Linked DNA regions of Homo sapiens: region 2 is linked to region 1. Evidence: fine-mapped QTL for protein levels in blood plasma. A gene starts in region 1. The other region holds a variant in brackets. All regions are shown on one strand. Distances are from middle to middle. Region 1 holds the start of CRACR2A (calcium release activated channel regulator 2A). Region 2 overlaps CRACR2A (calcium release activated channel regulator 2A).

The links. PIP is the chance, under the fine-mapping model, that this variant and not a neighbour inherited with it causes the effect. The UK Biobank Pharma Proteomics Project read protein levels with antibody pairs (Olink). The fine-mapping took linkage between variants from a reference panel, not from the people measured, so its PIPs are less certain.
Region 2: its variant is fine-mapped to the plasma level of the CRACR2A protein (UK Biobank, PIP above 0.99).

Annotation. Positions count from the first base shown.
Region 1 is chr12:3,750,677-3,756,047 of GRCh38, forward strand. It overlaps CRACR2A (calcium release activated channel regulator 2A), which reads right to left and starts at 2,433. Exons shown (of 20, transcript NM_001144958.2): 1 at 2,339-2,433. RefSeq lists a silencer at 2,168-2,667.
Region 2 is chr12:3,679,636-3,685,006 of GRCh38, forward strand. It overlaps CRACR2A (calcium release activated channel regulator 2A), which reads right to left. Exons shown (of 20, transcript NM_001144958.2): 5 at 603-714. Among named protein-coding and RNA genes, the nearest start is that of CRACR2A, 71 kb to the right of the region's middle. The variant C/T (reference allele first, on the strand shown) is at 2,572.

The DNA of each region.
Region 1 (5,371 bases):
GAGAGAGATGTGAACTCAGTGGGTGATTAGCCTGTCCCTGAGGAATCCCTCACTAGCTCTCCCCTAGCTTCTCTCAGCTGCATTGCCAGTACCCAGGCAGCCTGCAGATTCAACCCTCCCTCCCCACAACAGGTTCAGCAAACCATTGCAACAAGGAGCCCCAAGGCAGAATGGATGGCTACTGCGGCCACTGCCCCAGTGCTGGGGCCTGCCTTCTGCAGGCTCACCACAGCGTGACGCATCTCCAATCACCCCCCACACCTGGGGTTCCATCTCTGTCAGTGGCATCACCAGCCACTCTAACTCTGGAATCCAAATCGCCATCATCTTGGTCTCTTCTGCTCTGGTCCCTGACATTTATTCAGTTACCAGATTGCATCTACTCCATTGTTCTCTGGGTTAAAATCCCCATCCCACCACTTATTTTCTGTATGACCTTGGATAAACCACCTAACCTCTCTCTCAGTTTCCTCCTCTACAATATGGAACAATCATAGCAATCTCCTCATGAGGTTGTCAGGAGGATTAAATGAGATTAAACATGAAAATCTCCTACCACAGGCCCTGGCACATGGCAGATGACTTTTCCCCTACCCCCAAGCCTTTTAGCCCCTTCCTGTCCATTCCCACCAGCCCTGTTCAACCCCTCATGGTGACTGCAATGGGCTTCTTCCCAGGTTCTCTTCCCACAGCTTCCTCCACTGCAGTACATCCCATACCCAGGTGCAGATGACATGTTCTTCTGAACCCAGCTCCAGGAACAACACTTCCCTTCTTAGAAACCATCAAAATATCCCTAGGCTTAATAATGAAGTTTCTAGACTCGTAACACTCCAAGCCTCTGCCATCTCTCCCAGGCAGCACTCCTCACCGGATTGTCCACTACATTACTCCTTGCTCCTCAGGTACAACCCACCTTCACGGCTTTGCTCAGCCGTCCTTCCCCAAGATGCCCAGACCCAGCCTCCTATTCAAGGCCCGGCCTCAGTGCCACATCCAGGACGCCCTCTGCGAGTCACTCCTTCCAGAAGTAACCTCCCTCCTCCAAACTCCCTCTACACACTTTATAGTATAGAACCGAGAGGTGACAGGACCTCGGAAGCCGTACCTGAAGCCTCTCACTTATAGAACCGAGAGGTGACAGGACCTCGGAAGCCATACCTGAAGCCTCTCACTTATCACTTAAAAACTGCGCATGAAGTAGCTCTTATGGGCAAATACTAAACCATGAGGTTGTACATATTCATTTCACCTGAAAAGGGGCATGAACTCTGGACCCTTCAACAAAAATGCTGATTCCACGTGGAGCAAACTGCTCTGATTTCATATCCCTATGCCCACATCCTTGATAAAAAGACTCTTCGGTACATGCTGCTTTCTTCCAGAGACAAGGAACCCATCACCTCATGAGTTAGGTTCTTCCTCCTGACCCTCTGACCACCCTGGGGACTCCCACGGATTGGCTCTTTCTGTCCTCTTGAGTCACACAGAACGAATTCCTTTGAGACTCCTGGTGTCCTCCACAGAGCCAAACAGGGCAGGTTCCTAAGCACACTGTGTAAACAGATAAATGAACTCAGAGGGCTTTCCCACGTGGCAGGGTACATTCGCTGCATCCCGTGCATGCATGGGTGCACAGACACACACTCGCACACACACGGACACACACACACACACACGGACACACACACACAGACACACACACACACGGACACACACACACACGGACAGAGTCAGCACAACGCCTCTGAGCCACACAGCCAGGCCAGCACACGCGGGGGCCAGGGCGGAAGCCAAGCCCCAGCAGCCGCCCACTTCCTGACCTCCTTCCTTTGCTCTGGGAGGTTCTCTCTCTGTGTCTTTCTGACTGTCTGTCTCGGTTCTTTGTTTCTCGGCATGGCAACAGTTGTGGATGCTGCCTGCGTGGCCAGGGCTCCTAGTAGCACTGACCTGCAAGGTAGGAGTTTTGGTTCTTAGACTTGAGACCTTGGGCAAGTCACTTTACCATTCTGAGCCTCAGTTTCCTCATCTGTGAAATGAAGAGGCTGGATGAGGCTGGAGGGTTCCTAAGGTCCTTTCCTGACCAAAACCCTAGTGCTTCTCGGCTCTCCTCCAGTCCCGTTACCGAGTGACAGGGAGGGGAGCAAGGGCCAGGCCAGGCCTGGGGGTGGCAGGGGAGCCAGCTGTTCCCCCCCAAGGGCACACAGCCTCCATCCAGGCCCTCTGCGAGTTCCATGTGCGGCAGACACGCGCTCACACTTCGCAGCCGGAGGAGCAGGCAGGAAGCGCCGCCCCCCGGCCGCCCCGGCCGCCCACCCTCAACCTTCCTCCACGTTACCTTGGGCGTGTAGGCTTCCCGTGGACCTGCCCGCGCCGCCCGCTCGGCTCTCAGCTGTCAAGCAGCCGCCTGCTCCGCCCGACTCTTTCCGCTCCGAGCCGCGCGGGCTGGACCAGCCCCTCAGCGGAGCTGAACGGGAAGCGGCGCCCCCTGGACGCCCTCCGGGACGTGCGCGCGCCAAGCGGTGGGGTCCGGGCCTGCAGGCGCGACCTGAGGCCGCCAGGGAGGCTGGGTGGCGAGGGCGGGGCGGCTGCCGACTTAGCCGGCCTGACTGGTCGGGCTTCCGGGGTCCCGCTGCTCCCTAGGCCCCTTGCCCCGATTCAGGCTCCCAAGGTGGGGCATCAGTCCGGCCCTCGCTGGCTCACTGGAGAGGTGGTGTCTGGGAGTGCACCCCCGAAAACCCGGCAGCAGCCCGGCGTCACTCCGGCTGTTACCTCTGGGAGCAGAAACTAAAGGGGATCCTTATTCTTTATACTTTTCTGACTCTTCTATATATTCTACTGTGGGCATGAATCGTTAAAAACAAAACAAAACACCAAAAACCCAATACGTATTTGTTAATAAAGCACTGAGTAAATCTTCAAAGGCCTCCCGAGGTGCTCCGGCTGCAGGATAACCCCTCAGCTTAGCGCACAAGGCAAGGCCCACCCTGCCCTCTCCGGCCACAACCTAATTTTCCAGCCTCACCCTCTCTCCCTCACACACACACAACACTTTCGCTCTGGACACACTAGCTGTTGCCAAACACCAGCTGTTCTTCATGGCTGCTGGGAGTTCTTCTTTTTGCCTGGAACACCCTCCCCTTTCATCTCTGCCTGTTGAAATCCTACTCATCCATCCAGGCCCCTCTGAAATGTCACCTTTTTGGAGAACCCTTCCCCAGACACTGCCCCTGCAGAGTGCCCCAGTTCTTTCCTGGCAAGCCCATCTTTCTGGTACTGGTTTATGTAGTAGCATCCCCCTCTCACACGCGCTAAGTCCTATTCCAAGGTGGAGAGAAACAAATTAGCACTTACTGAGCAGCTGTTATAAATTACTCTGTGGAGTCCTTTCTTCTCCTTGCAGCCCAGCCAGCCACTAGCCCACAACCTCCCTCCACCCTGCCAGAGTTTCAGAAGGCTGTCAGGGGCTCTGAGGCCTGCCCTCTGGTGTGTCCCTACTGCGTGCCTTGGCTTTTCTGGCTCTGTCCTGGGTATGCTTCCCTGTGTCAACTCCCAAGGTCTGCAAGCTGGTGGCTTGACCTTCTCTCAGCCTTATGTGAGGAAAGAAGGACATTTCATTATCAGAATCTGAGAAGTGGAAGGGGCCTCAGAGATTATCCAGTGTAAAGCCTGCCCACCCATTTTACAGAGCAGAAAACTGTGACCAGAGAGATAAGGTCAGAGGCATCGGAGGTACCTACCATTGTTATTGTTGTTTTTAATAGTGTTAATACTTGCACGTTTAGATCGCCTTTCACTTCTAAATCAATGCGTTGTCATTCATTTGCCCCTTACAGTCTCAGAGGTATTACAGTGGTTAGTGCACAGACTCTGGAGGCCAAAGCCCTGGGTTTGAATCTCAGTGCTCCAACTTGCCAGCTACGTCCTTGGCAAGTTACTGGAACTTTCTCCATCAGTACAATGTGGATAGTAACAGCTCCTGCATCATGGGGTGTTCTATGAATCGAAATAAATGTGTATCTTTAAAGGGCTTAGAATAGTAGTAGGTTCATTAAAAATGCCAAATGTATTTGCTCTTATCAAATTTTTGTTATTGTTAATTGTATCACTTCACAGTTGGAATAACAGAGGCTCAGAAAGGCTGAGACTCATCCAAAAAATTGCTGCTTTGAGGATGGTTTCTCACCAAACTCCATGCAGTCATCTTTGTCTCTGATGCCATTCTGCTTCCTGTTCCCTTGTGTCTGAGTCTAACCACCTATTTAATAGGGAAGAAAAGCAACTGTCCTTTAGCCCACCTCAGAACACCTAGACATTTCATGTTGCAAACATTAACCACATCTTCTGGCTTCTATGGGGATGTCTCTAATTTGCTGGCGTTTTCTTTAACAGAACACCACGCCTCATGGTGCCCTTCAGAATCACAGAGCCATCACATTAACTGCTGCAAGTTCAGCTTGTACATTCGTGCCTCTTTTACTCTTGGCCCGTGGCAGAAAAGCGACAGGGAAAAGATGGTTCTTCCAATGTATGGATGTAGGAAACTGAGGCACAGTTGATACTCACTGATTGGCCCCAGGCTATGGAGCTAGCCTGGACCATGGGAAGGATGAGGATCTCCACCTCCTCTTTCCCCATGATTACATGATTCAGTGTTGCAGGAGAAACCCAAACTCGTTTATTCAATGAGGATTTATTGAGCTCTCTCTAGGTGACGAATAAGACCGAGGCAAGGCTGGCTTCCTGGGCATATGACCTATGAAGTCACATAGGCCAGAGGTCCCCAACCTTTTTGGAACCAGGAACCTGTTTCGTGGAAGACAATTTTTCCATGGACCAGGGGTGGGAGTGGGGGGTGGGAATGGTTTCAGGATAAAACTGTTCCACCTCAGATCATCAGGCATTAGTTAGATTCTCATAAGGAGTGTGCAAACTAGATCCCTCACATGCACAGTTCTCAATAGGGTTCACGGACCAGTACCCCATTACCGGTTTGTGGCCTGGGGTTGGGGACCCCTGACATAGGCCACTCACTTAGAAGGGCTTCATACAGAGTTTAATGCTGTCCTGCCACCTTCTTGAAATCTTAACAATTTTTGAACAAGGGGCCATATAAGTTGTATTTTACACTGGACCATTCAAGTTGTACAGCTGGTCTGGACCTAGGCTCTTCCCTAGGAGCTCTGTTTCACAGGGAATCAGCCAGGGAGTTGACAACTGCAGTTCAGTACGATGGGGGTTGTGACAGAAGCAGGGTAGCCGTGAAAGAAGAACAGGACCTTGGCCAGTATTCAGCTCACTTGGGTCATCCTCCCCAGCTGTGCAACCTGCCCAGCTGCCAATGACTTACCACTGTGCTCCTTGGTGGGAG
Region 2 (5,371 bases), 71 kb before region 1:
ATACTTACAAGAAAATTATATGGCCCCACACATAAGGCAGATATATGGCTTTTGATGTATCTGATAGGATAGTGTGTCTGGTTTCTTTATATTGTTCATAGATCTCGATTCTTCTTCCTCCTGGTTACCTTGAGAATGTCTAGTCTGTTCAAACCTTCTAGAAATTCCTCTGATAGCTGTTATCCCTCAACCTGGAAAATTCAGCCAGACTTGGGTTGGAATGAGCCATCCAGTTGTCCCACCTTTTGGCCATTTTTCTATGAAGGCAGAAAAGGAGAGGCTGCAAATCTCATCACAGCTCCCCCTTTTATGCTATGGCTTCTGCAGAGCTTCCGTCCATCTCCCTTGCCAGTCCCAGTGGGAGGGAGCTTGGTAATGGCAGTGCAGTGGGCACTGAGCAAGCGGCAATGTAAGCAGTTGAGACGGGCATGTGAGGAGGCCCAAGCAATCTAGAGCCTGGAGACCTTGAGCTCCAGGTCCCTGAAAGGAGGGCAGGAAAGCTTTACTACCTGCCCCCCAGGTCTACAAGGGACAGGAATGCACCTTATACAGTGTTAGGTAGACCCATAACCCTGAGGTCCCCAGCACCCATCAGAACTTACTAAATCCAGTAGTGAACTCCTGTGGGGTCAGATAGCCATTGCCATCAGCATCCAGGGCATCAAACACATCCTCCAGTTCCTCCAGGCTGAGCGGTAGCTCCTTATGCAGCCTCTGAAAACAACCCAGAGTGTACTGGTTAACACTGACACTCACTGGTGGGGGAGGTGACCTGGGACTGCAGAGCCTTCTGCCAGAAAGTGTCTAGAGTTCGGCCCAGTCCTACAAAAGCCAGTAGAAAGCTTCTGCATCCAGACTGCTTCACCATCCCTCTCCTCCTTTGCATGTTAGCACAACTACCATTGATTGGGTGCCTACGAATGTACTAGGCCATTTGCTAGGTGATTTATAAATAAACAAATATGTAAATATGCATTTATTTATCTATCTGCATTTAATTCCCATGACAACACTCTGAGCTAGGCACTATTATCTCTGTTTTACAGATGAAGTTTGAGGTGAAATTACCTGCTCCAAAGTCACATGGCTAGTAATGACATAGCCAGGAGTCAAATCCAGCTCTGATTCCAAAGCCAGCACTCTCAACATCTGTAAAGGACTCAAACTGTACAGGACCAAATACTTTCAGGATAATACTCACACAGCATGGTGCTGTAAAGTTGAATGCAATCATGAATGTAAAGCATATAACAGTGCCTGCATACAGAAAGCATTCAATATAAAGTAGTAGGGAGGCAGAGAGAGAGAGAGACTCATGGCCCACTGAGGCCCCTCAAGGAAGTACGTGGCAGAGCCAGGCTTCAAACCCTGTCTTCCCTGCTCTCCCTAAGCCCCCTTTCCTCTCCCGTACCACGATGCGGGTGCGGGTCACTTACTTGAGGCCTCTCCTGCTGGAGGCCCCTGGTGTCCCATTGCCTCAGCACTGCATTTGTAAGTGTCTGTGGACACACATTTTGGTGCTTGAGCTCTGAGGGGATATGGGATAATCCCCCTTCCTACCTCTGAGTGACCCACACCCAGGCCCCGAGTCCAGGTTCCACTCCAGCTCCCTGCTGACTGGTAAGGAATTCCTAATAAGATCTCAACTGCCATTGGCTTAAGGTATCAAGGCCCCAAGAGTATTTGTGTGTTAAAGGGGGACTGGACAAGATAGTGTGAGGAGGTTATCGCTGGATTTGAGTCTAGAGCAGACTCAGACCTCATAAGGAGGGAAGGGCAGAGAACAATTAATAGGCCCAAGAGCAAAGCAGCTGAGCTGTTGCTGCTCCCTTCTGGCCTTCTGCCCGATGTGCAATGGCCCCAAGCCAAGGCTAACTTGCATAGATGAAGCAAGTGTACCCTCATACCCAAATAATCTAGGTCTCCAAATGAGAACTCCCCAGAGAGTTATATCTCAGCCGATCCTCTCCCTTCCTCCCAGTTACCTAAGCGGTAACCGTGCGAAATTGCCAGTGTGGAAGTGACTGACAGCTGAAAACAATGAATGCGGGGCTTTGTAAGAAGAAAGGTATATACCAACCTCAACAATAAAAAAGAGCTGGCAGGTGTGAAAGCCCATAACATAATTGGCAAGAATACTTGGCTTGATCCTATGGCAGTTCTAGCTGATAAGCCATAAAGCTTAATTTGGCAGGTACATGCATTAAGGGAGACTATGATGCATTATAAAGTGGGAAGACAGGCTGATGTGGAAGCCATTTAGAAGAATTGAATTAAATATGAATGGGCTTTTCAGAAAAGGAAGGAGAGTGAGAGAGAGTGTGCAAAGATTCTGGAAGTATATCTGCTTAGCATTCAGCAGAATCTCTGACTTATCAACAATCCATAAACCAGCTGTCTCAAAAGCTACAGTAGGAGAACACGGGTGAGGAGAGAGTCAATTTTGCAAGCAGGGATTTTATTAGCATCATTGGAAATAAGAAGCATCACACCTGAGGTAGGGTAAAAGCGCAAGCTCCTGTCACGCTCACATTCCAGTCCTTCCTTTGGATTATCCTTCCTCCTTCCCCA[C/T]CCTCAGACTAGGATTGCTGGATCTGATTCAAAATGTGGTCTCTCGCACTGGGCTGGAGCAAGAAATGAGCTGCAAGAAAATTCCAGAGATCAACGGGACCCTCAACATGCCTTTCACTCAAACACCCCACACACTTTTCTCATGTTAGCATGAACCAGGAGAGGCTAGTTCACAGCTCACCTTAGGCACCATTCCTGAATCCAGCAGCACTTCGAACCCCAAATCCCCCTGTTGTCTAATCCCAGTTCTTGTCTACATCTCAAGTCAGTTTCCTCCTCCCATTGTCAGCAAAGATGGGGAAAGCAATATTATAGGTTCCAAGTAATTCTTACTACTCAAGTGCTGGCAAGTCAGCGCTGAGTGCTTCTTCAGCCTTCTCTGCAACTGATTCTATACCTGATTCTTCACTACACCTGATTCTTTCACCTTGTTTTGTTGGCCCTCCTTGAAAAATCTTTTAGTCTTAATAACCATAATTATCTCTTATTTATCGCTCTGCTCAGGGCCTACAGAGCCACAGAAAACCAGCTTATTCTGGTATGGTCCCCTGGTACTGTTTACATTATTTTTATTATTTTTATTATTACTTTTTTTTTTTTTGAGACAGAGTCTCGCTCTGTCACCCAGCAGAGTAATGTGATCTCAGCTCACTGCAACCTCCGCCTCCCGGGTTCAAGTGATTCTCCTGCCACAGCCTCCTGGGTAGCTGGGACTACAAACGCCCACCACCACACCCAGTTAATTTTTGTATTTTTAGTAGAGACAGGGTTTCACCATCTTGGCCAGGCTGGTCTTGAACTCCTGACCTTGTGATCCACCTGCCTTGGCCTCGCCTCCCAAAGTGCTGGGATTACAGGCTTGAGCCACTGGACCTGGCCTACATTTTTAACTAAGTGAGATAAGCAGGGTGGAGGGGAGCAAGATTATTTATTCCACTGTGCAATAGGCCTGTGAGGCTCTGAGATTAGCCTAAAGTCACAGTGCAGACCACAGCTGGGAAAAGAACTGATTTTCCATCCAGGGCTTGAGCAACTGTCTAATAGTTCTCCAGGGCATTCATTCTGTTATTCCCTCACCTTCATTACCTCCCACACCTACCCACCTACCAGCACCACCAAAATCAGAACACAAAGTCTCTCTTGCCAGCACCAAGACCCAGCCTTCCAGAGATCCTGTGGCACGCACAGCTTTTCACACACCTGGAAGGGTGGGCCAGGGAAAAAGAGAGGCATGAGGAGGAACTCAGCTTCCTATTCGTACTGCCCATGGCCCTGGGAGCTCTTGAGAACTCCTTGGCTCCTTTAAACACCAGCCTCACTCTTTCTTCACTCTCAGCTCCTGCGTCACTTCCTCCGTAAGGCCTTTGCACCTCCCCAGGTTAGGTCAGGTTATACAAGCTCCCCAAACTACCTTTCTCTCATTCATAAATCTTTCCCAATTAGCATTTTATATACTGATAGATGTGACTCATTGATGAACGTCTGCTCCCTCAGTGCTCTGAGAACAGGGACCTCATTCGTTAGGCACTGTTGTGTCCCCAGGATCTAGCCCAATGCTGACAAACATGGACTATTTAGATAAGTGTTGAAGGAAGGCATAGATAAGCGCTTGACTAAGAGCAATGGCAGGAGACCCTGAGCTCCTATGTACAGAGTGCTGGTCTAGACCTCACACACTCCAGAACCTGACCAGCCCAACTGCTAATTCTCAGCAAGACTCATAGTGACTGGCAACCTTCCAGAACCTAGAACATGAGGCATCTACAGCAGCAGTACTGAGAGTTCATGCCCCAGAGCCACGGGAAAGTGATGTCTTTTGTTGCACTCCAGCCAGGCTCCTTTACCTTCCTAGTCACCAGCCCAGTAACATACCCCATGTAGCTTAAAGTGTATGGTTGCACAGCTTCAAACATGCTTCCATGACATTTTTATTGAGGAAAAAATCAGAGGATATCCATTTTTTATGTCCAGAATTACACTGTCCCTCCTTTTGGGGCAATCACAGCATTCTTTTCAGACCCCCATTCCAGCACCAACCACCCTCTTCCCTGTGGTACAGTTCAGCTATACCAAATCTCTCTAGGACGAGAGTGGGAGGTGGGAGGGCAGGATCAACCTTTATCCTGCTTTGCACCTTGATGTGCTTGGCTTGGGCTGATTACGTGGTATAGGCCACAGTTTCTCAACCTTGGCACTACCGACATTTTGGAATGGACAATTTTTGGTTAAGGGGGTAGTGGAGGGGAAGGCAGGGGAGGGACCATCCTGTGTATTACAGGATATGTAGCAGCATCCCTAGCCTTTGCCTGCTAAACGCCAGCAGCACTTCCCTCACCAGTCGTTTCAATAAAAAATGCCTCCATACATTGTGTAAGGAATATGGCTGTGCTTTGGTCAAAGATAGACCGAGGTAGAATGTTTACATCCTGCGTGAGTCAGCAAGTTTAGAGTGCAGGCGTATAATTCCACTTGTTATCACAGCCATGTAGCCATAACATGAGAAGGCCATCACTTGGCTGTACACCACTATTGTCTGTAAAAGATATAATTGTCCTGTTGACACTGTGCAGGCATGCTTGCGCTTGTGCCCAGAGAAAGAGAGAGAGTCAGAGCTGCCTGTCATTGCAGACAGACTGCGGGGAGCCAGGACACATGCCCAAAGAAAGAATTAAGCTGCTGACCCTGAAGGCAAGGGAGAGCGGGCCACGCAGCTGTGTGTGGGAGCCGCCAGATTAAGTAGCCAAGACAGGGCGGACAGTGTGAGAAAGCTGTTGATGAAAGCTGCTGCTGAATAAAACCA